Linked DNA regions of Homo sapiens: regions 2, 3, 4, 5, 6 and 7 are each reported to be linked to region 1. The links are microRNA targets in miRTarBase. Many come from high-throughput screens and were not tested one by one. Region 1 holds a microRNA gene; each other region holds the end of a gene's coding sequence.

Region 1 (4,069 bases):
CCCAATGACCTAACATGAAAACGCAAAAAGTTACATAGGAATATTGGTTAAAAAGTCTGGTAGATTTCTTTTTTTTTTTTTTTTTTTTTTAACTCATTTTTATCAAAATTTGTGCAGTTGTAAAAATTTTTTTTTTTTTATTATACTCTAAGTTTTAGGGTACATGTGCACATTGTGCAGGTTAGTTACATATGTATACATGTGCCATGCTGGTGCGCTGCACCCACTAACGTGTCATCTAACATTAGGTATATCTCCCAATGCTATCCCTCCCCCGACCCCACCACAGTCCCCAGAGTGTGATATTCCCCTTCCTGTGTCCATGTGATCTCATTGTTCAATTCCCACCTATGCGTGAGAATATGCGGTGTTTGGTTTTTTGTTCTTGCGATAGTTTACTGAGAGTGATGGTTTCCAATTTCATCCATGTCCCTACAAAGGACATGAACTCATCATTTTTTATGGCTGCATAGTATTCCATGGTGTATATGTGCCACATTTTCTTAATCCAGTCTATCATTGTTGGACATTTGGGTTGGTTCCAAGTCTTTGCTATTGTGAATAGTGCCGCAATAAACATACGTGTGCATGTGTCTTTATAGCAGCATGATTTATAGTCCTTTGGGTATATACCCAGTAATGGGATGGCTGGGTCAAATGGTATTTCTAGTTCTAGATCCCTGAGGAATCGCCACACTGACTTCCACAATGGTTGAACTAGTTTACAGTCCCACCAACAGTGTAAAAGTGTTCCTATTTCTCCACATCCTCTCCAGCACCTGTTGTTTCCTGACTTTTTAATGATTGCCATTCTAACTGGTGTGAGATGATATCTCATAGTGGTTTTGATTTGCATTTCTCTGATGGCCAGTGATGATGAGCATTTCTTCATGTGTTTTTTGGCTGCATAAATGTCTTCTTTGTCACCACCAGGCCTGCCCTAAAAGAGCTCCTGAAGGTAGATTTCAAGTAAAATCACTAACAAAGGATGCTACGCGGTCCAGGGCTTTCACCTACCAGAGGATACAGAGGAGTCACTCTCCCCTCCAACCACACAAAACAGACTACAGAGGTCTTTTTATGTATGCTTTTAAGGAATTCCATTCCTGGGATTCAACATAGCTGAGGCATATATGGACAGATGGTGGAGCATTGTATCCAGAGATATCAAGATGAGAGGATAAAAGAAGAGAAATCGTTGAAGTTTCCTTGCTCTTATTAGTACATTTAAAAAAATCATAGTCCATGGGCTGTTACAACAAGTTCTCAATGTTTTCCATTTTTATATTTGCCTTGTTATAATCCTTAAAATTAATTAATCTTAAAATACATAATTGCCAAAGTTTTGTTCTATTTAAAACTGTGATTTTATTTAATATTGACATTACAAGTCCATTTCTGGAATCTGCCTGCCACAGAGGTTTGGTCCATCAGATAGTGTGGTTTCACAGTTAATAGAGTCTCTAGGCAGACTGCCTGGGTTTGAAACCTGGCTCTCCTAATTATTGGCTGTTTCACCTTGGGTAAGTGCTTCCATGCTTCAGTTTCCTTACTGGTAAGATGGATGTAGTAATAGCACCTACCTTATAGAATTATTTTGAGGAATCAATGAGTTATTATTTGTAAAGTGCTTAGAACAGCAACAGCTCCACAAATGGTCTCCTTCCCACTAATTCTGTAATAAAACAGCAAGTGCTGGGGGAAGGTGGGGGTGATGGGGGGCAAGAAAAGGAACCTGAAGCTTCTCCAGTGCATAGAAGTTTCTTTTGCCTCAGGAGTCATCCTGACCCAGAAACGGTGTTAGTGGTGTAACATTGGGCTACTTTGTGTTCGCTGGAAATCCCAGACTAATATTAATATTCATGGGATAGTCTCTGGAAGCCTAGACTTGGACCCACTTATACCTTAGTGCTTAAATTGTACAGACACTCAGACAGGTATGAATTAAACTTGGGTGGGGGGCAGCTTATTCGGCCATCAATTTTTATTTTATAGTTCTATGTGTGTGTGTGTTTTGAAAAACAAATGGTTCATTTTCTTGCTCCTGTGGGAGCAAAGCAAGTCATAAACTTAAAGCAAGTGTCTGCAAAAAACTTTCCAGGCACCAGTCTTTCTGACAGACAGAACATCATCTATTCAGTAGAAAAAGTCAAACTTGCTTGCTATCTTTTAATACTCAAAAACAAAAACAAAAACAAAACCCAACAACACTGAGACTGGTAGCTTTTCCATGGTTATCTCCATCTAAACCTTCATGAATAGATTCCTTCCTCCAGGAATAAGGAATGAAGACCTAGGACTGACAAGCAAGAAACATGAGCTCCATCCATGTTTGTTCTCTGGCGTAAACTCTGTAACTTGGAGGAAGGCTTTTGGTTTCTGAGGTTGGGCTGGGAATTCTGCAGGGCATAGACAACTTGCTCTCAATGGAGAAAACACACAAGCACACACTCAGAGAGACTCAGACAACTTGCATGCATACACACACAAAATTCTCACATGTAGACACACCTTCAAGATACACATTTACATTAATGTTCACAGGTCTAAGGTGTTAAGACTCAGGGAGGATCATGGAGGGGTGAGGGGCTTAGATCAGTTCAGAAGAGGAAACTTTTCAGATAGATTTCTGTCAAAGTAAAATTGAGGTGCAGAGCCCTCTTCGAGCCCTTCATCAAGATTCACAAAAATAAGGCATTAGGCTAGAAATAGCTCTCTGCAGGCATTTATATATACCTTTAAACTCCATTGTTTGAAGCCTATCAATTTGGAGTGCTGAATTCTACTAGATTCTAAGATATTAGAGTAAGATAGAAAGATGAATTTTAGTCAACCAATCAATGTGCACTCAATGGATGCCTACTACAGTCACAGGCAGTGCCCTCTGGGCCCTGGGATAGAGAGATGATTGAGATATTATCCCTACCCGATGATAGTCTAGTAGGGAAGATGAGACTAATACATATGAAACCAGCTAATCTAACTTCAACGTTAGACTATTAGAGCCCAAAAAGTGTCCTGCCTTGTCAAACATGCTATTTTGCCATTGAAATACTGCTATCCAGACATAGTAAGTAAATTTCTTATGGCCACATGATCAAATAATAGACCAGTTCTTCTAGAGAGAATTACTCTCTCCATCCCTTTGCATTGTTTTATAATTTTATAAAAAACTTTTACATGGCTCTGTGCTTTAACTAGGCATCTGCCTGTCTGTCCTTCCTTCAGGGATGTGATGCCCCACAGGTAAGAACCTGACCTTATACATTTAAGGAGCGCACAGTGACTGATAAGGCCATATTTAGCCAGGAGGTGCTCAACTCATCAGCCTTAAGTGATCGGAAAGGATCAAAGACAACAGTCCAGGGAATTCCTCTTGGCCAAGGTCGCCATTCATTACACCAGATAGCACAGGTAGTAAAGACCTAAATCTTGGATACAAATTCGAGGTAAGATATTTTAAACTTGGCGTAAAATTATAGACCTGTTTCTAAGCCCTTCTGTCTTCTTCTCCATTTTAAACTCAGTTGCTTTATAATTTTACATAAAAGGGTAATGCATTTTCATTTCAGCCAGCAGGAAAAGGTTAGGCTCCTCAGGTGCTTTTGAATCTTCATGTTTGCAGACAAAATCATTGAAAGGTTTTGATATATTTCTCCTAAGGGTTTTTCTTGAAATTACACCAGGTCACTCAATCATCAGACAAGCATTTTTAAAAACAAAACAAAACAAAACTGCTCTTTGTCAAATACTGGGCAAGTTGTTGTCTACAAACTTGCTTGGCTGAATTACTGAGCAACTACTTTATGCCCAGAGAAAAGAAAAGAGCAGCATGGTTCTTACATGTTTGCTAAGCTCTTGACCCATGCTCTCATGAGTACCCTATCCCATCTGGATCTGAGTGTTGCCCTTCACTATCCACCTTCTTTCATTTAACAGTTATTCACTGGACACCTCCTATGTGTCAGGCACTGTCTTAGATGCTGGATTCTTGGTGATGAACATGGCAGACAAGGTCCCTAGCCTCAGGGAGTGAACATACTAGTTGTCAGAGGGAATGGGGGATGGG
Region 2 (4,068 bases), not on the chromosome of region 1:
ATGGTCTTCATGTCTCTCTACTCAGTGTTATACATGTCGAGTTTACTTCCCGCCAAGATGTTTGCAATTGCAACAATAAACAAAGCTGGGTGGGGCACATCAGGAAGGAAAACCATTGTTGTTAATTTCATAGGACTCATTCCAGTATCAGTTTGGTTTACAATCCTCCTGGGTGGTGTGATTTTCACCATTTATAAGGAGTCTAAAAGGCCATTTTCAGAATCCAAACAGACAGTTCTAATTGTTGGAACGTTGCTCTATGCATGCTATTGGGTCATGCTTTTGACGCTGTATGTAGTTCTCATCAATAAGTGTGGCAGGCGGAAGAAGGGACAACAATATGACATGGTGCTTGATGTATGATCTTCCATGTTTTGACGTTTGCAGTCACACACAACACCTTAGTTCCTCTAGGGGCTGTACAGTATTGTGGCATCAGATAATGCCACCAAAGGAGACATATCACTGCTGCTGGGACTTGAACAAAGACATTTATATGGGTTTATTTTCATTCTGCCAAAGTAAAACAATACATCAACAAGAAGAAACTCAGATTTAACCTGTTATTTCTATGAAAATGGGATGAATTCTTTGTTTATGCACTTTTTCCTTACTGTGCATCCGCCTGAAAGTGTTTTGCCCTATATACCTCACTAGCCATGCTTTATGTGGGTTATCATGGAAGAAAAGGATTTTGGAAACTCAAGGAAAAGTTCTTTCAACCTATACAACCTAACTTATGGACTGTTTTGATAGATGATAATTTTTTTTTTTTAGGAAGGATTTTCTTTTTAACTTTACCAAATGAAATGCCAAAGGAAGTTTTAAAGGCCGTTGGCTGTGCTGTATTTTGATATAATTGTACTGTGTTTTTAAATTTTGTATGCCAATCTTAAAGACAAATTTTGCATATTCTCTATTTTACTTTTCTGCCAAAATAAACCTGTTCTTCCTTTTTTAAAATAAAATAAGTTCTTAAAAAATTTATACTTAAAAAATCCTGCCCAAAATGTGAAGCTTGGTTGACTGATGTTCATGATAGAAAGAATAAAATGTTTCTCTCTCTCTACCTTTTAAAATTGAATAGTTTATTTCTGTGAAAGAAGTATTTAAACTTTCAATATTTTAACTTTTTGTTTTTATTTCTTTTAGAAAAGGCCAATATACCTATCACACTTTGGAAGTAAAAATACACACTTTCGTGTGTACCTAAAAAAAAAATCGTTGAAAATCAAGGCCAAAGGTAGTGCAATTTTTTCATTAAGATTTAAAAAAAAGGGAATGATAGTCTTTGAAAGAAAACAGTAGGCATCCAGCACTGGACAAAACATGGGTATCAAAGATGAATAATCTTTGGAGATTCTGGCAGTGTTTTCCCAGAACAAGTCAAGTGGAAAGTGGAGAAATTATCTGTATAATTTTGGACACATACAATGCAGTTTATCAAAGGTTTTGTTCTGTGGCCTGAATTTACTGGGTCCTACCTACACATTGAACATGTTTTGCCTGTCTTTTTTTTTTTTTTCAACTTGCCAGTTCACTTTACATGTTAGTATAATGTTTACACGGGTGAGTTGGATAAATTATAAAACATATAAATTCAAAATTGGCAGATAGAATCACCAAGTATCTATCCTCTTTTACTTTCAAATGAGGAATTTTGTTTTTCTGAATTACACAGATCATCACTTCCTATTTCCTGTTCTGGACCTGTATAAAAATGTCTACACAGTAGAAGTGACATCAAGGTTTAATAAGTATATCAATGATTGGCACATATAAAAATTGTTGAACCACATACTCTGAACTTGGCTAATTTAGTTACTGCAAGGCCTCCATTATCCAGTTTTATTTTTTACACGATTGACCTTGCCTTGTAGCTGGTGCTGTGTAGACCTGTGTTGAAAACACAATCGGAATATATGAATAATTGAATAAACAGCATTATGGTGAGGCAGAGACACATGGAGAAGTGTTAAAAAAAAAATGGGCTTCCTGCCTTTCTGCCTCTTTTTTATGCAGTCATCTATGTTACATCTATCCTGCCTAAGAAAAAGCTGCACATCCTACCTTCAGAGTACAAAAAGGTACATCTGAGACTCAAGACTCTCACTGATTGGAGAGCTTGTGGAAAACAAAACACACCATGCCAATAAATGAGATGAAAACTTGAGTTTGCCTTTTTAACTATTTATGTTCTAAGTTAAGCTTTGATAACATTCAAATGTCAAATTCTCTCATTCTTATAAAAAGTTGAATTAATTGCCTGTATTTATTTTAGCAATTATTCAATGTATTTCCAGTATAGGATGTATAGTATAATTAATTTTTTGTAAATAAAATATTTTTGATAAGATTATTGCCTTTTTTTCTAAGGGAAGGGGGAACTTTGTTTTCCTGATTATAATGGTATGAATTTAGGAAGGGGGGGTTTTAAAAAAAATGATGGTTGGTAAAAAAGAATATGTCATTTAATGTTACTTATTATTAGGTAGAAATCCCTAAAACTGGTGTGGTTTGAAAATCTGGAAAACCACAGAGAGAGGAGAGAGACTGCTTAATTATCATTACCCTTGTCTATAATCTTTTTCTTCTGCTTCCCTTGAAAGCAGCACAAATTTAGACAATTTTTTAAATTATAGTAACTTATAGCAGGAAAAAAAATCAAAGATATGCAGAAATATGATAAGCAAGCTTGTTTATTTCAGCATTATTCAGAAATAATAAAACCTTAACCTAAAATCAAATGATGAGGGCAATAATTAAATAAATCATGGCATTTCTAAAAAATGGGACATCATTAGCTATTGAACACAATGTTCTCAGAGAACACGTGGATTTTGGAGAAATGTCACATTAAAAAAATAACCATTTTGTACAGTAACATCCCAATTTTATAAAAGTGAAGATGTTTAAACATGATTATCTCTAATACTGGGAATGACTGATTTATATTCTGTATATGTTTTTGTATTTTCCAAATACTATAAATATGTTTTTATAATCAGGAAAAAAAAGACAATAAATATCATCTTTTTAAAAAGTGGGTTGGGACATCTAACAGCATTTTCTGATTAGAGGAACTTTGATAGTAATTATCTCATTTTACCTCTTATCCCTCAAATTCATCTTATTTCCCAGTTCTTTTGTGTTATCTGTTTTCTAAGAATCCTTCATTACTTTTGTACTGCTACATTATAAACTATAGCCACTGAACATTATTGTCAGATAATCCAGAAATATTGATGGTTCTAAACTTAATAATTCACTGATGAAGTCACTTGGTGACAGTCTTTTAATGTAAAGAGCCTTAAAGTATACATTTTAGGACTGGGCATGGTAACACACGCCTGTAACTCCAGCAGTGTGGGAGGATTGCTTGAGGCCAGGATTTTGAGACTAGCCTGGGCAACATGGCAGGACCCAGTCTCTACAAACAATTTTTTTTTTTAATTAGCCAGGTGTGGGCGTTGCCTGTGGTCCCAGCTACTCAGAAGGCTGAAGTGGGAGGATTGCTTTAGCCCCAGAGGTCGAGGAGGCTACAGTGAGCTGTGTTTGCAGTACTGCACTGCAGTCTCGGCAACAAGAATGAGAACTTATCTCAAAAACAAAACAAAACAAAACAAAACAAAAAAAACCCCCACAAAACTATTCTTAATTCACCAGCATTACCAAAACAGGCAACAAGCCAGATATATCCTGCAGCCCATAGTTAATGACCCCTGCTCTTTAGAAATCTGTGGACTTATCTGTACCATTAAGTACTCACACTGACACCTAATTTTTGAGCACATACTATGTTTTAGGCACTACCAGAAGCATGCTTTATAGATTAGTTATTATGTCAGTCCCAAGAAGTTCCATTATTATTACCATTTTAAGCGAGGAAGCTGAGTGAAGTTTAAAGAAATTTGGTAACTTAATATTATAAAGCCAGTACATTGTAGTGGTGGAATTTAGGTCCAGACATTATGACATCAAGCTTGCCCCTTCAACTAATGCTACTCAGTATTTCATCCACTGTCCGGCAGCATCAGCAGCATGTGGGAATTTATTAGAAATGCAAGT
Region 3 (4,060 bases), not on the chromosome of region 1:
AACAGAATTTTGACGGTGGAACTTAAAACACTTCCCTGCACTTCCTAAAATTAGATTCATTTGGCAACTGGAGGAAGACAAACGTAAAAGACACTCTGTTTCAGAAAAGAAGTTGTAGAGCCCTTTAAAAAAAATGTCTGAAAGCTCAGTTTAGTATCTCAACATGTTAGAAATGAAAGGTACAGTGCAGAGTGCCGCCCCTCTTCGCTGCCTGGTACAGAAAAAATATTCAGTATTTGTTGGATGGATGAAATTGTATGTAAAGGAAGAGGGGAAAAGTGAGGTGAGTGTTCATGTTAGGTATTGAATAAACCACCTTATATCTTCCAAGCGATACTCTAGGTTGGCTTGCTCTCCTCCGAAGCTGGGTTTTGTCAAACTGCATTCGTTCAGCAAGCATTTATTGCGTGCAGATCTGGGTAGGGACGCTTGGAATCCCAGCGGATAGAACAGTGGCCCAAAGTCCCTGCCACCCAGGGAGTTGACGTTTTATTGAGAAAGCCATACAAACAACCCCATAAACAAGTTCATAAAGCCTAAAGCGATGTGTAGAAAACAAACTACTGGAAGGAAGAGTAACTGGGAGAAAGGTGGAGTGGGGAGGCCAGAGCCTGCTTAGTCAGATCAGCAGGGCAGGCCTCTGGGAAGGCGGATTTCAACCTGAGATGAGAGGCGCCTGCCGCGAGTGGGGAAGGCGGATTTCAACCTGAGATGAGAGGCGCCTGCCGCGGGTGAGGAAGTAGACCCGGCAGAGCTGAAAGTACCTGCAGAAGACCTTTGGAAAGAAGTCAGTTTGCTGATGAGAAACCGAAACAAACTTTATCAGGTCCATTTCTCCCTCAGGGCTTCCTTGCCTGTTTTCATTCATAGCTAACTCTGGCCTTCAAGCCACACCCTGATGTTGAAAGTCTCATGGGCACAAGTCTCTCCGATGTCAACAGCTATACTTTGGTGGAGTACCTTGCTTGGAGAAGAGAGAGCTGGAGAGTCGTGTGACATGAAGTCAGAAAACTAGAAAGGACCAGATCATCGTGGGACCTGTAATTCGGGAAAGGGACTTGGATTTTCCTATTGTAAACATAAGCAAAAGTCCTCTTCCACCCGTATTATATTGTTTCCTAGGGGTTCTACGATAAGAATGGAAATACATTCATGAGGAAAAAAGGATCTACAGGAACAGAGCCATGTGTCTGGGGATGTCCCTCACCTATCCACTCATCTATCCCAGGGTCCATGCCAGCAGCCATCTAGTCTACCACAGACGGGGTCGGCTCTGCACATCACTTTAGAAAGACCATCTATTTAGGGAACTCCAAAGCCACATCCTGAATTTTGGTAATTGTGTAAAAGCCAGTTTCCTCCTCATCGCCTATACTAAAAAGCACTTTTCACAAGGGGAGCGGTTTTCTTCTGTTCACTGGGGTATGCGGAAATGCTGGGTACCAAAAGGGTAGAGTACCTAGAGAGGGGCTGGTGAGAAAAGGGGGAGACAGTTTCGGGGCTTCTAAGGGACAGGTATGGGGAGCAGCAAGGAATGGCATTTTTAGGACTCGGACCAGGTGCAGCTATTCCTCTACAAGGAGCACAGGTGCCACAATCATGTTTATAAACACTTTATTTAGGTGATTACAGTGGGTAAGTTCCCAGCTAAGTGCACAGATAGAAGCGAGGTATTTCTGGGTTAATGCAGGAGCCAGTGGGTTACATGGGTCTGGGCACTGTGGCCAAGGGGCGAGTACCAAGGTTTCTGAGTCAGACCCGGCCAGAGACCCTGCGCTGAAGGTGGACTAATGTCCTAACACTGCCAGCTGCTTTCTCCTCACAGCTGGCCACACCGCAAGGCATCTCTTCAACAGTAAATCATTTCAGCGATGTTAAGGGAACAGACGTTAAAGAAATGGAAGCTGTGTCCTGGTGCGCCTCAGCTGTTGCTGCTTTATAAGTCATAATAGCATGTGAACAAGAGTTTTAGAATATTCCAGTAACAATGAGCCACAGAGCGATAAAGTCTGTGTCTTTCTCCCTCAGTGCCTCCTTGCCTGTTTTCTTTCATACCTGAATTCCCATCTTTAAGCTGTGGATCCTGATGTTGAGTCTCATGCATACAAGAAAAGTTTTTCCGATGACAAAGTTTCTGCTTCCAGCATTCCCATCAACAGCATTCTCTGCAGTTGATGATATCAAAGCAAAGGTCTCTGGTTGGCTACTCTCTGTGAAAAGAGCCATTCACCCCTGACCAATGCCTAATTGCAGGCATAATTTAGAAAACTGATTTAGGAAGCAGAATGTGAATACAAATAGGAAACAAACTCCAAAGTTATAGTTTATCTTCATATTTGGGCCAGATAATGATCAAGTTCACAGGTGGTCTTACTTGAGGCTACAGAATTGTTGCTTGCATAATTATCAGAAACATGCTGGAGTCCACAGCTGATAATCTGCCAACTGCTGGGTAGAACTCTTTTATGAGACGGTCAGAGTCTACCTCAAACCTTCTCTAACCCCCATGCAAAATACTGAATCAGAAGGGGAGCCACACTGTCTACAGCCTTTCAAAAGGAAGAAAGGCCTATGAAGATGTAGAAGGTTCACACACAAGGTAATGATTTTAATTCTGAAGGGGCACCTTGAGTTCCATTTGGCACGTTTCTGAATTTAACTGTCAGGAATACACTTAAGGCCATTTTATCGGTATTTAACTTTTTGGCAAAATAGAAGCTTTGGTCATAGCCATAGTTCTTTAAAAATTTTTTTAAAGAGGTTATCTCTGATTAAAACAATATTTTTAGCAAGTGATACATAACAATAACAACAATGTAAACATCTTCAAATCTAATGCAAGAGCAAAAGCTCTTCACCAGCATCTTAAATACAGCGAGAGTCAGTAGTGCTTACAAAAAGTAGAGGGTTCTCTTCTAGGGAATCAGAAAATTATCAAAATAAGGCACAGCCTGTTGTTATCACAGATTTGTGTTAGGCAGTAGTGTTTTTTTCTGGAAGGCATAAGTTGGAAATCTGATTACCCAAAGGTTTAAAATGTGGTTCTGAAAATAATGCCAAATGACAAGGGTAACTAACTGGGAGTAATGGCAATTAATTAGTGACAACATTACATCTAGATTATAGCACTCTGGAACTTAAGAAGGCCTCTTCATCAGCCCATACGTAAATCTGTAAAGGCACTGTGCAAAATGTGGACGGGGCCGGCCTTCTAATTTGGAGTGCATATTAAAAAACAAAGGCACGTTTCCTAGAAATTCAACTTTACATTAACACAAAAAAAATTTTAGAGATAACAGTAGGTAAGCTTGATAATATAGCAGGTTCTAAGTCAAAAGTCTTGAAGAGGTTTCTTGAACAGCAGTTTTGAGTTCCGCTGGTTCTTCATGAAGAGACAACCCACACTAAGAAGGAGGAGAGATGCAAAAAGGCAGGGGAAACAGCAGGTTAGTCTCTCAGTGTGAATCCCAAGCCAACATCCAATGCTGCAGTCTAAATGTGATCAGAAATTAGACTGGGCTGATTTCCTACTACTGGCTTCTCTCCATTCTATAGAGGGCTAGAGGAAGGAGACTAGAGTCAAAAGGATCCAAGTAACTGTACCTTCCTGCTAAAAGGAAACATCCACTAACATCCATCTATCAATGAAAGAAGTCATGTTTCGGTTCTCATATACTGGGCTACCGATGGCAGTGAGTTGTTTGAATATTATATAATAATAGTTGTGTGTGTGTTTGTGTATACATATATATTATTTATATAGCTATTATTTTTATTATTATATGCCAGGCACCAACCTAAGCAATTTTTATTTATTTTATTTATTTATTTTTTTGAGACGGAGACTTGCTCTGTCACCTAGGCTGGAGTGCAGTGGCATGATCTTGGCTCACTGCAAGCTCCGCCTCCCGGGTTCATGCCATTCTCCTGCCTCAGCCTCCCCAGTAGCTGGGACTACAGGCGCCCGCGACCACACCCGGCTAATTTTTTGTATTTTTAGTAGAGACGGGGTTTCACCGTGTTAGCCAGGATGGTCTTGATCTCCTGACCTCGTGATCTG
Region 4 (4,069 bases), not on the chromosome of region 1:
TCACTGTTTAAAGAAAGCACAGATTCTAGATTTTTGATAAGTCTTTTAGCTCTTAACTTTATCCTTGTACTAAGAAGCCAATTCAATCTCTCCTGGGTTTTGTGGGAGGAAAATTGGCAGCACATACCTTGAGACTCCAAAAAGCTGCACACTTTTATTTATTTATTGGCAAAGAGAAAACATTTATTTAACTCAGATGATTTTCTTGCTTTAATTAGGAACTTGAACATCAGAGAGGAGCCCTTATGAATGAAATCCAAGCTGCGAAAAACTCTTGGTTTAGCAAAACCCTGAACTCTATCAAAACGGCCACGGGCACCCAGCCATTGCAGCCAGCACCGGTCACCCAGCCACCCAAGGAGAGCACATAGTTCCAGCCTTACCCAAGCACAAGAGCACAATGTTCAAACCAATGGAAATCTGGGAGGATTCTTCCTGGTGTCCCTTTGAAGGAAAGTCAAGGAGGCCAGAAAACAAGCCAGAATTTTTCAGTAGCTCTCACTCTTTCTTGTATGACACTTTTCAAAGGGATGCTATTTAAACTGACCTGTTCTATGTTGAATACCTATTTTCCAGCTTCTGGAAGGCCATGTTCAGATCCATCATAGTATTACACATTATTTTGTTTGCCTGATGTTTAGTTGGAAATAAGTAATTCAGAACTAAATGCTTTTTTATTTAGAATTATTCATAATTATTTTTATCTTACATAAAAATGGAGACATCTGTTATTCCAAGGTTGAAGTGATAAGAAGATCTTTGTCACAGGAAAAAAAAAATTGAAACCTAAACATCTTAAGTTTTCAGGATTTATTCAGATAAAGCACACTGTGGGGCCAGGCATGACCACTCTCAGGTTTCCTCCTGAGCCTGATTCCCAGGGAAGTGTTAATCCTGTCCAAAGGAAAGAACCAATCAGCGATCATTGGTTTACTTTCATTTTCTGTTCGGTACATCTGGAAATGAAGTGCCAGGAATAGACGGGCTGTTCAGATTATACGCTAGGTAAAAGGAACTGAAATTTTAATAAGTGTAGGTCAGGATCATTTGGGCTGTGGTATTCTAACAGATCCTTTTAAGAATGCCACATAGGACTTGTGAGTTCCTAAGTACACCAAAGTATGGACACAGATGTGACTTCTGGCAATTATAAAGTTAAAGGTGGATATTGCACCTTACAGACTTAGGGAGCCTTTACCAGAGACGCCTAAAAAGCCCCAGGTTCAGCCATTGTGCTGAATAGAGTGGAATATAGAACCAGGGACAGAGTATTTCATTTAACGTTGATATATACTTGCTAAGGAAACACTAACAATACTGTAACTTTGTTAAAGGACATAGTATTGAAATGGGAAATAGAGGTCAGGCTCACATCATCTTAGTTTAATGCTGGGCAACTTTTTCTGATTTCTGTAGTTCCCTGAAAATGTGTCCTTCGTACCCATAAAGAGATACAAATGCATTTGTAACATTTTTGATTGAATATAAAACCTTTACAGAAATACTTATCTCATGGAAAGGTAAAGCTATTGTTTAAAAATTAGTGGAAATATTTTTTCAATTATATTTAACATGCCTATAAAAATAGTCCTTGCAGGAAATTATTTGATAAGAGCAAAACTATTTTTATTTTATAAACTATTTTGGAGGCCTCTGATCCTTTCAAACCAACCAAACTACTATTAGATATGTACAATAACATTTGTTGATATTAATCATTGGCCTCATTGTTGAACATATTATTTGCAAAGAATCTTAAACTCTGTAGTGCCAGAATGATTCTCATCTGTGCCATATTTTGCAATTAAAAGTAACACACCCTTAGAAGAATCAAATAAGAGCCATCTACATCCCAGGAGGATGCACCAAGTTGCTCACAGTGGATCTTTTCCTCTAAAATGATCTTTTATGTTCTAAAAAGTGAAATCCCCTTTATCTGTGTTTATATTCTCTACAGCCCATAAAACTGATGTGATTGTTATGTTATACTCATCAGATAATACTTTTCTTACATAAATCTTTCATTGTTGTTCTGACATCTTTCATTACAAAATTTATTTTCTTAACAAAAAGGAACATAACCCAGCATTCCAAGTGTCTGTGTTGGCTTTAACATTCTCTACATGGTGGTCTAGATAAGCTAATTTTTTTTTTTTTTTTTTTGTAAAATGTAATAGCTAGAAAATGTTATCTTGGCGCTTGTTTTTGTAAATCATTTAGTATAGGCTGTTAGCTTTACTGGTACTTTACGCTTTGATTCCAAGAAGCCTTGTGCAGTTGCCTTATCAAATGGCCAGCTAAATTAAAGATGCTCTTTTGTGTTGTGAATTTCATAGTTCTGTACAGAGCTTGTTTCAATTTACAAAAATAAGTACATTCCACAGAATGCCTAAAGTGTGTAATTTTCTTTAAATAATAGTAGGTGAGGGAGAAACATAATGGCTCTAGGTCAATCCCTTATCTAAAGACCTTGTTCAACTTCATAGTCCCTTTCCTTTTAAAGAGGAGAAGAGAAAAATCCCCCCTGGCCAGGCATGGTGGCTCACATCTGTAATCCCAGCACTTTGGGAGGCTGAGGTGGGTGGATCACCTAAGGTCAGGAGTTTGAGACCAGCCTGGCCAACATGGTGAAACCCTATCTCTACTGCAAAATACAAAAATTAGCCGGGCTTGGTGGCGGGTGCCTGTAATCCCAGCTACTCGGGAGGTTGAGGCAGGAGAATCACTTGAACCCAGGAGGCAGAGGTTGCAGTGGGCCAAGATTACGGCATTACATTCCATCCAGCCTGGGCGACAAGAGCAAAATTCCGTCTCGAAAAATCACCAGGTACATACCTCTCAAGTTTGATAAGTCCATCTTTTGAGTTTTCTTTTAGCTCTTTCAAAAGATTACGAGGGCAATACATATTTTTTTTTTTTTTATTCTCCAGCCCCATATCATACTTGGGTATGCCTGTTGGTACCATAAGCCTAAACTCTCCTTCACTGCAATGCCTTTGAGTCAGTAGCAATAGTAAAGACTAGAAACAAAGAAAATTCAGAATTTGGTATGTGATATGATTGTTCATACAATATGTTATAATAGCAATATTCCAAACAATATGTCCTTCACTGTCTATTGTTGGAAAACTCATGCATCCCAGCATGAAGTAACTCCTAGTTTTAATTTTAGTTATTTTGAGATATATTTGAGAATTGCATCTCTTCTCTTGAATTTCACTTAGAAGAGATTAACCAGCCAAATATCCAGGAAAGTTTCAAAACATTCTAGTGTTTTTCATCCTTTGCTAGGATGCACTCTGTACAAAACATTCCTCTGAAAATCTAATATTTGCAGTATCTAAGAATTGATCATTTCTATTTTCATTAAATTCTGTGGAAAAAATTAAATGAATGAAATTCAACTTCATAATTCAGTTCATCAGCTTTTGTATCTTGAGAATCTAAACACGTCTTTAAATCTGAAAGAAACCAAGCTGGATTTTGCAGTGCATATGTTTGCTAGCTTCCCACATCCTGAACCATGTCAAAATTTGGTTTTATTTAGTTACATATAATTTAATGCAAAGAAATTCTGTTACTTAATGTTCTGTTTATTTATGAGTGCCTATCAGGAACACTAATAGGAATGCCATTCAACCAGTGTCTTCTGCCCCTCTCCCAGCTGTTAAATTAGTACTTCTTCATTGGCTTTCTGAAATGTCCTGAGTAAAGTAGAAAAGCAACCTTTGTATGGATGTGGGGATATTTAATAGTATGTATCTTGTTTCATTTTTTTCCTATGATGTATTAATATTTATTTTTCTCCAACCCCTGCTCCATTTTCTTAAAATATTTTCCAGTTAATAACTAGTTGCTTTATTTCCTAGCTGAAGTGAGAAAACCAACGGAAAACAATACAGATTTGGGCAGAGGAGATAGAGTTACATCTTTAAAGGAGTGAGCCAGTCACCCAGGAGAATCACATGTGTAACTGATGTAGGGGTTTAAGTCTTCATACTTTCACTAAAATCTGTCTACTAACTCTCCCACCAACCTTTGCATCAAACACTTAGGTACCTGCCTGATT
Region 5 (4,063 bases), not on the chromosome of region 1:
AGCTAAAGCTCCCAGCCCTAATTTCTAGCAACTTTTATTCAATCTTTCCAAGGCCCTTGCCTTCATGGAACAACGCACTGATAGTGTCTTAAGAAGTTACAGTAAGCAGGATCACATTTAGGAGCAAGCAGGTGAGGGCAGAGGTGCTGGAGTGAACGTCGGCTCTTTGGCTGGTAGCCTTACCCACTGAGGGAGAGGAGCTGAAACATGAAATGGGGATGCGTGGTACGTTGCAGTTCACCTGGGATTTGATGAAGAGAAGGGCCAGCTTGCTCTGGCTGACTTTAAACCTCCCGTGAAAAGCCGTGTTGGTGTACTTGAGTCATTCCAGGTATATGGCAAGTTTTAATAATTCACTGGTCTGCCTTGCCTTTTTTCCCCACAGAACAATGTCTCCCTTTTGCAGAGCTGTATTGACTTGTTCAAGAATAACTGATATGCCTTCACTCAGAAGAAAAGAAATGAATGTGAAAGAAAGCCAAGCATCACTTGCACTTAAATCATTACCACGGAAGATATATTAGCTTCAACTTTAGTTTAAAATTATGTGAATAAATATTTTGATTTCTACAAATCTTAACATTTAACCATGTTGGTTTAAAAATATTATTGCTTGCTACTTGGACATAACTAATTTTTCCTTGTGCATTTAATACCTCTGGGCAGAATCCAAATACTGGGTTCTCCCGTAGTTCGTCTTTAGTTACTAAGAAAGGGTGTAGGACACATTAGCCTTCTGGAAACAAGTAGAAGCCATCACCTGGCCCATGTCCCTACAAACCCATGATTGTCAGGGAGGTGCCAGTTACAGCAGGTGATTCAGCTACTTGAGGTCGGTAACAGACCTTCCATTCCTCACTGAAGGTGGGGTTTGTGTTTTTGTTTTGCCCTGTTACTCCACTGGTAGTCATCTGGTGTTTGTACTATAACAACAGCAAGAAAATCTCATTTATCTTTATATACTCTTTGCACCTCCTTTTTTTAGTCGAGATATAAATATTTGAGGGGAGAGAAATATCTACAGGTATATATGGAAACAAATAATGTGGTCTGCTTTATAAGATGGCCAGATCTACATTAGGAAAAGTATAAGCCCCCTCCCTAATGGCCGCTGGGGGGTGAGGGCGGTGTGTTGTATGTCTTTGGGTGTTTGTTTTTTTATAAAGCATATAATAAAATAATCGTGCTACTAATGTACGGCCTGTTTTCGTGGAAACTACAACCAGAGTGTGTCCCAGGAGTGCAGGTGGTGCTAGGGTTTGGCTGTGGTTACAGGGTTTTCAGGTTCTGCCCAGAGTCCTGGGGGCGGTCAGGGGAAATTTGTCCTAGTCTTGACATTCTTAAGTACTCCAGGCCTTTTTTAGATGGTCTCTAAATGTGGGTTTGTCTGTTTGCTCCTGACCTGATGGAGGTTTGCATTTTGGCCAGGGCCTTTACCATAGGGCAGTGGTCCCCAGTCTCAGGTCCATGGCTTGTTAGGAAGAGGTGAGCCAGCATTGCCGCCTGAGGTTCGCCTCCTGTCAGATTAGCAGCAGCATTAGATTCTCATAGGAGTGCAAACCCAGTATTGTGAACTGGGCATGCAACAGGTCTAGGTTGTGCGCTCCTTAGGAGAATCAAATGCCTGATGATCTGATGTGGAATGGTTTCATCTGGAAGCCATCCCTTTCCACACCCCACCTTGTCCATGGAAAAATTGTCTTCCACGAAACCACTCCCTGGTGCCAATGACATGTCTTCAGGAGTTGTGTGTCTATTCCTTTGTTGATGACTGAGCACTTAGGGTGGTAATCTCCTTTACCTTTCTAATAAGTAATTCATGGTAAGACCATGAGACTAAAAACATTTTACCCACCACATTTAGCATCTGTTACAGCCAACTGGTATGAGGGTTGCAGAACTGATTTCAATACATACAGGGAGCATGTTTCTTAACATTTATCTGGTCTTCGTGTCTTGCCTCCCCAGCTATTTACAGGCGGCCACAGTGCCTTCTACCTTCACAGTACATACTTGGGAAACGGTGCACAAAATGAGTGAATTTAAACTTGGCAGTTGTAACTTCAGTCTGGGCTCCTAACCAAATCTGTCCTTCCTACCCATCTCCCCCATAATGTCCACAGCAGCCACCCACACACGCCCAGCATTCTGTTAGTGTAGAGCCAGCACTCCTGCAGTCAGGTTCCTGGGCCGCAGTGCTTGAGCACCAGTGTGATCAGCCCTGATTGGTGGAGCTCTGGCTGTTGGCCTCGGGGCCTTGGTGCATTTTCTTGAGACTAAACCTTGTCAAATGGACAGCAGAGGCATGAATCTTGAGTGCTGGGTCTGCTGCTCACCAAGTGATCTAGGCTGCCTCTCTCAGCTGACTGATCTGTGAGCTGGAGTCAGCACTTCAGAGGCCCCTCAAATTAGTTTTATGCCAGCAATCTCTAATACAGCCTTCATGGATGGTATGATTGTAGATGTTTTACCTGCTGTATTTGTTCCAAGGCTTTTCATTAAATTGCACCTGACAGTCACTTAGGAAATTTGAGGCACTCTGGGTCAGGGATGTAGTCACCTTTCCCCTTCTGTCAGTCACCTAGTGAGTTGCTACCTTTACCTGTATGTGAGGGTGCATTCATAGTGGTCTGGGGTGGGGGGATGGGTTTAGATGCTGACTGCGACCTGTGTGGTGTGCTGAGACCTGGAAAGGCAGGCAGGCACTTGGCAGCAGGAGGAACAGCATCAGGTGGGAATCCACAGCTATCTTGCTGGAGTGCAGGAGAGCATAGGTCCCACATTGAGAAATGGGAATTTGGGTCACTTCAGGGTGATGTGTGGAGAGGCTTTTGCTGTGTGCTTGTATGGTTCTGAGAACTAGTGATCCTCCAGGAAAACCCATGTGGGTGCACAATTCATAGGGAACCCTTGAAGGTTTCTAGAAATGGGAATGGGAAGTGGTTTCAGATGGGCTGCCTTAAGGCATCCAGGCCAAAAAGGCTGTGACTTGCCCAAGGCACGGCTGAGAAAGTTGCCTCGTGGCACACGCAAAACTGCACAGTTCACATGTCATACGATTTCATTAAAAGCTAGGATCCAGCCTGAGAAACAGCGCAACCGTGTCTACAAAAAATGCTAACCTACAGTGGTGGCATACACCTGGAGGGCTGAGGTGGTGGGAGGACTGCTTGTGCCCAGGAGTTCAAGGCTGTAGTAAGTTAAAATCACACCACTGTACTCCAGACTAGACAACAGGGACAACTGCCATCCACCTCCCCTCTCCCCGCCCTCCCCCACTCTGAAAAGCAAAATTAGGAGATTGTCACGAGGAAGGAAAGCACACCCCTGGTCTGTGAAGCCGTTGAGGTCATGTCAGACCACTGGGGTCGTTTGTGGTGACAGAGCACAAGCATTTGGCCAGTTCACCACCCAACACATTCACTTGTGCCATCTCAGGGTTTAGGGGTCTGTTTTCTGAACATTTGCCTTGCGCACCTTTTCTTTGTGAGGTTTCTTTGTGGTAATTCCCAGGCTCAGCTCTGTGAAGGGCGATTTCCGTTTGGAAGGAAACCTTGCACCATCCGCTTTCTGCCTGTAGGCGGCAGGGGCGACCCAGCACAGCCACCTGCCCACCCACAGCTGAGCAGGAGCCTGGTATCCCCGCAGAGCTGCTCAGATTATCAGCTTATAGCTAAGGTAGCAGGAAGAGAAATGTCAGGCTACTTGAGAGTTAAGTAGTTCTGAATGGTGTTTTCCCAGACCAGCAGTCCCCTCCAGGATTCCTGCGGGCTTCAGGTTTCTGGTTACCCAAGACACAACCTCCATTGCTGAGGCCATGCTGTTCGAGAACTCCCCATCTGAGCCTGGTGTCAAAACAGTTGTGATGTTGATGGGGGTTCACAGCCAGGCCATGTGATGTGTCTGGAAGGAAGTTGGGGGTGGTGGACAACATTTGGGCAGTGATCAGTTATGTCCTTTAGACACAGCTGGGTCTGCAAGGTCCAGGGGACGCCCTTCCCCATCCACTCCTCGCACATACACAAGGTGCCCCTTGCGTGGGTGAGCTGCCCACAGTGATTTC
Region 6 (4,069 bases), not on the chromosome of region 1:
TGAGATGGAGTTTTGTTCTTGTCGCCCAGGCTGGAGTGCAGTGGTGCGATCTCAGCTCACTGCAACCTCTGCCTCCTGGGTTCAAGGGATTCTCCCACCTCAGCCTCCCCAGTAGCTGGAATTACAGGTGTGCACCACCACACTTGGCTAATTTTTCTATTTTTAGTACAGACGGGGTTTCACCATGTTTGCAAGGCTGGTCTCGAACTCCTGACCTCAAATGATCCACCTGCCTCGGCCTCCCAAAATGCTGGGATTATAGGCGTGAGCCACCATACCCAGCCTGAAATATTAATTTTTAAAGTAATAGATTAAGTGGAGTGTAATGCGGAGGTTATTGCTCCAACAGGATATTTTAAAGAATGTGTTAACTATAAATACTCGTGGGTTGGGATAAAATTTCAGTGACAACATCAACACATTACTCAAAAAAGCTCTTCCTGCTCACTTGGGCAGCTCATCCACTAAAACTGGGATGATTCAGAGAAAGTAAGTATGGACCTTGCACAAGGACAATATTCAAAGTCAGGAAGTAGTCTATTTTTTTTAGACACTAAATAGACAATACAACCAAATGAACCTTGAATGGACCCTGGACCAAAATAAACAAATGAGGGTAACTGAAGAAATTTGACTATATACTGTGTATTAGATATTATGGAGTTATTAATTTTCTTACATATTATACGGGTATTATGGTCACATAAGTGAATGTCCTTACTTTAGGAAAAAATATGCTACAGTATTTAGGGGGAAAGGGTCATAATGTCCCAACTTGCTTACAAATGGCTCACCAAAAGATGTTTCTTTATATATATACACATAACACACATACATATCTTTATACATACATATATACATATAATACACATATACATATAAAACACATACACATGAAGAAAACTAAAAAGATTAGCAACTGGTGAATCTGGGCAAAGGCACATGGTGTTCAACTTATCTACAGATTTGAAATTTTTTAAATCAATCAGTTGAAGAAAAGCAGTACTTCTAAGTTGTCCTGTTGTGTGATTTTGAATAGACTTATCCAATTACATTAACCAATATAAGTTTATATCTATCTCATGTTCATGCGTACAAGTTTGTATATTCAAACTGAGGACACATCTAAAAATGGAAAAATAAGCAGCAAGGTAAGGGAAGCACAATAACTGCAGACGGAATAAAAAATGTTTGCCACTGGGAAGCAAGAAATCTTTGGTAGAGAAAGATGGGTGGTACTGGTAGTGTGTGTGTGTGTGTGTGTGTGCGTTGTGTGTGAGTGAAATGGTACAGAATAGAGAACTGTTTTCTGTTCTTACTTTATAAGCCTTATAAAACTAATTTATCAAATTATATGTATGCATAACTTTTTTTTTTTGAGACAGTCTCACTCTGCCACCCAGGCTGGAGTGCAGTGGTGCAATCTCAGCTCACTGCAACCTGTCTGCCTCCCAGGTTCAAGCAATTCTCCTGCCTCAGCCTCCTGAGTAGCTGGGACTACAGGCATGTGCTACCATGCCCGGCTACTTTTTTTTAATTTTTATTAGAGACGGGTTTTCACCATGTTGGTCAGGCTGGTCTCGAACTCCTCAAATGATCCCCTGCCTCGGCCTCCCAAAGTGTTAGGATTATAGGCGTGAGCCACAACTTTAATGTTTTTAAAAATTCAATTAAAAGAATTGTTTTACTTTGCATCCTTGTTCTTACCAATTCCCTAGTTTCCTTTTATTTCATACTGTTTTAATGCTTTACTTAACATTAGAAGAAATAAAATGAGGTTGATCATCAGGGAACACTAAAAATCCCATTGGATAAATATCTATATAGTTTTTGCTTCTTAATAGGCATAAATCTATTATTTTCACTTAAGTTTTTTTTCTCATGTAGTTATGTGAGAGAGGAAAAAATAAACCTCATGTTACAAAATGTTATGCTGTATTTAGATATGAAAAACTGAAATTCTGATAGCATAGGGAGCAAAATGTTTATGTAAAAGTACCATCATTTTGTAGTTGGCTGAAATGTGATCAATATTGAATGGAATGCTGCTATATTTAACTTTAAAAGTGGCAAAAACTTAAATCTCTGTTCAAAGATTAATAATTTCTGAGTTCTCTTTTAAAAGACAGAAGAGCCAGTAATTAATAAAGACAAGTGTTCAGATTTATTTGGAAATTCACAGTTTCTAATGGCACTACAGCTCCGTAGTTACATATTGAAAATTCTCTTCCCACAACACACAGATCACATAATTTCTCACTGTATCTCTGCTCTCATCTGGACCTCTTTTCAAGGGGCTTCTATAAAATCAGGCCCTCTTGCTCTGAATAGCTAATTGTGCAGACAGGAAAGAAATTTAAATCTTCTAAAACACGCTGTTAACCTAAAGCAGCAACTTAAACAAACAAAAAAGGCGTTAAATAAGTCACATTACAAACAATACCCAAGAAAGGTATTAGGCAAGTTTAAAAACAGTTATCACTACTAAAAGTGCTCAATAAGTTATAACTTAAACATCACAACAATAAATGGTCAATTCTCTCCCTTTCAAAAAGAAACATGTTCCACTTTCATTCATTACTGTACAATCATACTAAGAAATCATTTTATTCAAATACAGTTGCTGCCAATTATTTTTTAAAGACAAAAAAAAAGACAGAGACATCGACATCACATATGTATTACCTCTGCACATTTGTAGCCAATACAAAGCAAACATCAAGGAATAATAATCTCTTTAGACTTAACCAATTAGATTAAGCTTGACAAACTCACTAACTGGATCTGTGCATATGTATGCAGGCAGTGATTATATCATGAGACTTGTACTAATTGGCCAAACCTTCAAATTTTATATTCATACTAATAAAAACAGTGAAAGTTTGGAGGATTAGTGTTTATTGTGTATGTTTAAAATGTAAGCTAAAGAAAACCTTCACAAATGGTTAAGTGTGTTTAAAAGGTGAATTTGTCAAAAATTTGTCTGCATATATCAGTTGTTTGCAAAAAAAGATCCTGTAGGGATTTTTCCTCATTGAGTTAGTAACTAAGTAAGAAGTAATCCAGTCTGAATAAGTGAAAATAACAAGAGCATCACCATCTACCTAACAGAACAGACTTAAAAATTCCATTAAGTGTTCATTTCCAGTGAGTTTGCTAAACAAAGATCCAGTTGGCAAGTTTTTAGGATCTTTAGACTGTCTGATCCACACTCCTGAGCTTCAGGCACAGACCCCCTCAAAGCATTGTAGTGTTTGCAGCTTCAAAAACCTAACAAAGTTATAAAAGAAATCAAATAACAGAAAAAGTTATCCCTCCTCTTCCAGTGGCATTATAAATAGACAAAAGGCACATAAATATGGGAAGGTGCAAGAAATAGGAACAAAGCTAAAGGAAGAGGTTTAGGCTTTCATTCCTATCCCACCTAAGGAACTGGGCTTCCAAATTACTTTTGTCCCAGTAATTAATCTTGTGAAAAAACATCTTTATAAAATGTCTACCATTGTCCTTATAGGAAGTGATCAGCTTTGTAAAACTGTAGCTCATTAACCAAGATTGACACAATCCCATCTACTTTTTAAAAAGGTAGAAACCATAATTTCTGAATGCCTTTCCCATTAATATTTTCTCCCTCCCCCAAACCCTTCAAATACTACAGACTGTTCTTCAAAGAACAACAACAAAAAAGTCTTCTGTATGAAAAGTTCAATTAATTTTAGATATGTCCCGAGACTGCTGTAACACCAAATGTTCCCACGGTGATCTCTTTGTTTCCTTTGATTATGTCATGCAGGCTCGGCAATGATCCCGACTTAGTCTGTATTAGAGTTTTTATCAATTTTCCTTGGTCTTGGACTTTAGATCGTCTTCGTTTTAAAGCCCTCTTCTCAGTTTTTGTCTTTTGAGACTGTCCATTGCACAGACTTGTGCAAGCTGAAATGCCACAAAAATAGGACTCTTCTGACTGTGATGAAGTTTCTGAGCTTCCTTCAGATGGAGGACCTTTATAAGAAGAGTGATAAACTTCTCCCATATTAGAAAAATCTCTCTGGTTCGTAAAGGGCTTTCT
Region 7 (4,069 bases), not on the chromosome of region 1:
AAACTTCTTTTGCAAGGTTCTGATGACATTGATTCCTGACAGTTAATTCTTCCTTACAAAAAACTCACAGGAACATTTATAAAATGCAGAAGTGTGAACACACAGCTATTGACCTTGGAAACAGTGAAAGAGGGTCAGCTGTAGAACTAAGAAATAAGCAAATTATTTCAATCAAGAATACATGAGTGGTCAGGCACAATGGCTCACGCTTGTAATCCTAGCATTTTGGGAGGTCGAGGTGGGCAGATCACCTGAAGTCAGGAGTTCAAGACCAGCCTGCCAACATGATGAAACCCTGTCTCTACTAAAAATGCAAAAAATGAGCCGGGAGTGGTGGAGGGCACCTGTAATCCCAACTACTCAGTAGGATGAGGCAGGAGAAATCACTTGAACCCAGGAGGAAGACATTGGAGTGACACCAGATCGCACCATTGCACTCCAGCCTCAGCAACAAAAGCAAAACTCCATCTAAAAAAAAAAAAAAAAAAGAGTCTCGACGTGGTAGCTCATGCCTGTAATCCCATCACAGTGGGAGGCTGAGTCGGGTGGATCGCGAGGTCAGGAGTTTGAGACCAGCCTGACAAACATGGTGAAACCCTGTCTCTACTAAAAATACAAAAACTAGCTGGGTGTGCTGGTGGGTGCCTGTAATTCCAGCTCCTCAGGAGACTGAGGCAGGAGCATCACTTGATCCAAGGAGGTAGAGGTTGCAGTGAGCTGAGATCGCACCACTGCACTCCATCCAAGCTGACAGAGCGAGACTCCATTTCCAAAAAAGAAAAGAATACATGGGTGCTTTTGGAGCAGCGCTCTATGCCACTCCAGCCCATGTTTCAACATTTTTCCAGAATGGACCACAGGGCCTTGAGGGAAACACACAATAAATAGCTCCCAGCTCAAGATTTTAAAAAATGACATAAGGAAAGAAAACTGAAAAACAGACTAACTGCTTAAACTACATTTTGATGTTTATTTAAAAGGTCACTGACATCTTTACCAAGTACACACTGCAACAATCAAACTTAAGTAGTAGGTACCACAGCCTTCCAATAAATAACAAAGACTAGAAAGCATGCAGACCTCGATCTGAACTGGATGCAACTAATTTCAAACAGCAACTCTTTTGAAATTGTTGTAGGAAAAAAATCTCACGAATTTTGGGGTCAACCGGAAAACAACTGGAAAATATACAAGTACAGAAACGAATGATGTGAGCTGATTACAGGATGCTGCAAAGGCATCTTTCAGAAGTCATTATGTGTTAAGAAATAAAACTATTAAAACTAAGATATATCTCAAACTCAATCTGCAAAAAAGAAAAAATAAATAGAGAACTGAAGAGGAACCAGAAGGAAAAAAAAGGGAAGTCTATGACACAACGAGAACAAAAGCATTTTTGATGTCTGTTTTTTTCATTTGTTTGTTTGAGATGGAGACTCACTCTGCCAACCTCGCTGCAGTACAGTGGCACGGTTTTGATTCGCTGTAACCTCTACCTCCCAGGTTTAAGTGATTCTCATGCCTCAGTGTCCCAAGTAGCTGGAACTAAAGGTGCACACCCCCACCCCTGGCTAACTTTTGTATTTTTAGTAGAGATGGGGTTTCACCATGTTAGCCAGGGTGCTCTTGAACTCTGATCTTAGATGATCCACTCACTTCAGTCTTCCAAAGTGCTGTGGGATGAGACACCCCGGGTTTGATATCTTTTTTTTTTTTTTTTTGAGACAGACTCTCACTCTGTCGCCCAGCCTGGAGTGCAGTGGCACGATCTCGGCTCCCTGCAAGCACCGCCTCCTGGGTTCACACCATTGTCCAGCCTCAGCCCCCTGAGTAGCTGAGACTACAGGTGCCCACCACCATGCCCGGCTAAGTTTTTGTATTTTTAGTAGAGACGAGGTTTCACCGTGTTAGCCAGGACGGTCTCAATCTCCTGACTTTGTTATCTGCCTGCCTTGGCCTCCCAAAGTGCTGGGATTACCGGCGTGAGCTGCCACACCCAGCCTGATATCCCTTTTAAAACTACTATGGTATATCCCTTTAAAAAAGTACTATCTCAAAAAAGTACTATCTCTTTAAAAAGTACTATCTCAAAAAAAAAAAAAAAAAAAAAAAAGGAAAAGAAGAAACAATGCCAGGCGCGGTGGCATATGCCTGTAATCTCATCACTTTGGGAGGCTGAGGTGGGCGGATCACCTGAGATCGGGAGTTTGAGACCAGCCTGACCAACATGGAGAAACCCTTTCCCTACTAAAAATACAAAAAATTAGCCAGGCGTCGTGGCATATACCTGTAATCCCAGCAACTAGGGAGGCTGAGGCAGAGGAATCGCTTGAACCCAGGAGGCGGAGGTTGCTGTGAGTCAAGATCGCACCATTGCACTCTAGCCTGGGCAGCAAGAGCAACACTCCATCTCAAAAAATAATAATAAACAGGCTGGGAAAACTGGCTCACATCTCTTGGCCATGCTTGTTTCAAACTCTTGACCTCAAGTGACCTATGTGCCTTGGCCTCCCAATGTGCTGGGATTACAGGCGTGATCCACTGCACCTGGCCCAATCCTCTTATCATAAACACCTGCATGTCAATTAAGGCTTGAACTCAATGTTAAGTCAACACAAACTCAAGTCAATGCTGAATTGACTCCAATGTCAATTAATGCTTGATGGTTTGCTATACTCACTGCATTGGGAACAGTTATCTCAAAAATGAATTTTCTGATGTTCTGCAAGGAGTGACCTCGGACTGAAGACCTTGCCACACTGATGACATTTGTAAGATTTCTCTCCAGTAGGGATTCTCTGATGTCTAATGAGGTGTGAACATGAAGTAAAGGCTTTGCAACACTCATCACACTTGTGACATTTCTCTCCTGCATGAATTCTCCTATGTTTTGCATAGGATGAAGCTTGACTGAAGACCTTGCCACAGTCATGACATTTGTAAGGTTTCTCTCCAGTATGAGTTCACTGATGAACTGCAAGGTATGAACGATGTCTGAAAAATTTGCCACATTTATTACACTCGGAAGATCTCTCTTCATTATGGATTCTCCAATGATTTGCAATCGTTGTAGCGTTACTGAAGACTTTGTGACAATCATTACATTAGTCAAGTTTCCCTACACCATGAATGGCCTGATGGTAAGTGTTGACTGGTCACTAAAGGCTTTGCCACACTCATTACACTTGTAAGGTTTCTCTCCAGTATGAATTCTCCTATGTCTTTTAAGGCGTGATCTGTGACTGAAAACTTTGTCACATGCTTCACATTTGTAAGGTTTCTCTCCAGTATGAAGTCTATGATGACATGCAAGGCTTGATTGATGAATCAATCAAGTGATTGTGAGCCTTACCACACTCATTACACTTGTAAGGTTTCTCTCCGCTATGAATTCTAGTATGGTTTGCCAGATAAGAATGGCACATGAAAGCCTTGTCACAAACCTTACATTTGTAAGGTTTCTCTCCAGTATGAAGTCTATGATGACGTGAAAGGTGTGACTGTACATTAAAAGTCTTCCCACATTCATTACACTTGTAAGGTTTCTCACCACTATGAAGTCTACGATGGCATGGAAGAGATGACCTGTGACTGAAGGTCTTGTGACACTCATTACACTTGTAAGGTTTCTCTCCAGTATGAATTATCTTGTGTCTCTCAAGGTTTGATTTCTGACTGAAAACTCTGTCACATTCTTCACATTTGTAAGATTTCTCTCCAGTATGAAGTCTATGATGACGTGCAAGGCTTGACTGATGAATAAAAGCCTTACCACAGTCATTACACTTGTAAGGTTTCTCTCCAGTATGAAGTCTATGATGACGTGAAAGGTGTGATTGTTGATTAAAAGCCTTGCCACATTCATTACACTTGTAAGGTTTCTCTCCAGTATGAATTGCCTTATGAATTACAAGGGTTGAATTTTGACCAAACATCTTGCCACACTCATTACACTTGTAAGGTTTTATTCCAGTATGAAGTCTACGATGGCATCTAAGGGATGACTTGTAACTGAAGGACTTTCCACATTCATTACACTTGTAAGGTTTCTCACCAGTGTGACACCTAT

What was found. The annotated mature microRNA hsa-miR-302e reads UAAGUGCUUCCAUGCUU and lies in region 1 at 1,525-1,541, shown strand. An mRNA with a match to its seed (bases 2 to 7 or 8) in the 3' UTR can be bound and repressed. Matches are read on the target gene's strand: a 7mer-m8 pairs with bases 2 to 8, a 7mer-A1 pairs with bases 2 to 7 and ends in A, and an 8mer does both.
Region 2: the mRNA of HAS2 is a reported target of hsa-miR-302e. The part of its 3' UTR that is shown has no 7-base or 8-base seed match.
Region 3: miRTarBase lists VAMP3 as a target of hsa-miR-302e. Seed matches in the 3' UTR shown: 7mer-A1 at 1,649-1,655.
Region 4: the mRNA of RABGAP1L is a reported target of hsa-miR-302e. Seed matches in the 3' UTR shown: 7mer-m8 at 2,559-2,565.
Region 5: the mRNA of SNX5 is a reported target of hsa-miR-302e. Seed matches in the 3' UTR shown: 7mer-A1 at 492-498.
Region 6: miRTarBase lists SUCO as a target of hsa-miR-302e. Seed matches in the 3' UTR shown: 7mer-m8 at 2,489-2,495.
Region 7: miRTarBase lists ZNF578 as a target of hsa-miR-302e. Seed matches in the 3' UTR shown: 7mer-m8 at 1,964-1,970 and 7mer-m8 at 1,669-1,675.

The regions. Positions count from the first base shown.
Region 1 is chr11:7,233,247-7,237,315 of GRCh38, forward strand. It overlaps MIR302E (microRNA 302e), which reads left to right and starts at 1,520; the gene lies at 1,520-1,591.
Region 2 is chr8:121,610,404-121,614,471 of GRCh38, reverse strand. It overlaps HAS2 (hyaluronan synthase 2), which reads left to right. Exons shown (of 4, transcript NM_005328.3): 4 at 1-2,356. The coding sequence ends at 363. Among named protein-coding and RNA genes, the nearest start is that of HAS2, 29 kb to the left of the region's middle.
Region 3 is chr1:7,778,970-7,783,029 of GRCh38, reverse strand. It overlaps VAMP3 (vesicle associated membrane protein 3), which reads right to left. Exons shown (of 5, transcript NM_004781.4): 5 at 1,598-3,404. The coding sequence ends at 3,385. Among named protein-coding and RNA genes, the nearest start is that of PER3, 3.3 kb to the left of the region's middle.
Region 4 is chr1:174,989,631-174,993,699 of GRCh38, forward strand. RABGAP1L (RAB GTPase activating protein 1 like) reads left to right here. Exons shown (of 26, transcript NM_001366446.1): 26 at 219-4,069. The coding sequence ends at 371. Among named protein-coding and RNA genes, the nearest start is that of CACYBP, 8.3 kb to the right of the region's middle.
Region 5 is chr20:17,938,730-17,942,792 of GRCh38, reverse strand. It overlaps SNX5 (sorting nexin 5), which reads left to right. Exons shown (of 13, transcript NM_014426.4): 13 at 386-1,193. The coding sequence ends at 436. Among named protein-coding and RNA genes, the nearest start is that of SNORD17, 22 kb to the left of the region's middle. RefSeq lists enhancers at 1,709-2,300, 2,276-2,365, 2,396-2,485, 3,726-3,855, 3,488-4,063.
Region 6 is chr1:172,609,906-172,613,974 of GRCh38, reverse strand. It overlaps SUCO (SUN domain containing ossification factor), which reads right to left. Exons shown (of 24, transcript NM_014283.5): 24 at 2,142-4,069. The coding sequence ends at 3,716. It also overlaps the pseudogene RNU6-693P. Among named protein-coding and RNA genes, the nearest start is that of FASLG, 47 kb to the left of the region's middle.
Region 7 is chr19:52,511,382-52,515,450 of GRCh38, reverse strand. ZNF578 (zinc finger protein 578) reads right to left here. Exons shown (of 6, transcript NM_001099694.2): 6 at 1-4,069. The coding sequence ends at 3,297. Among named protein-coding and RNA genes, the nearest start is that of ZNF808, 14 kb to the left of the region's middle.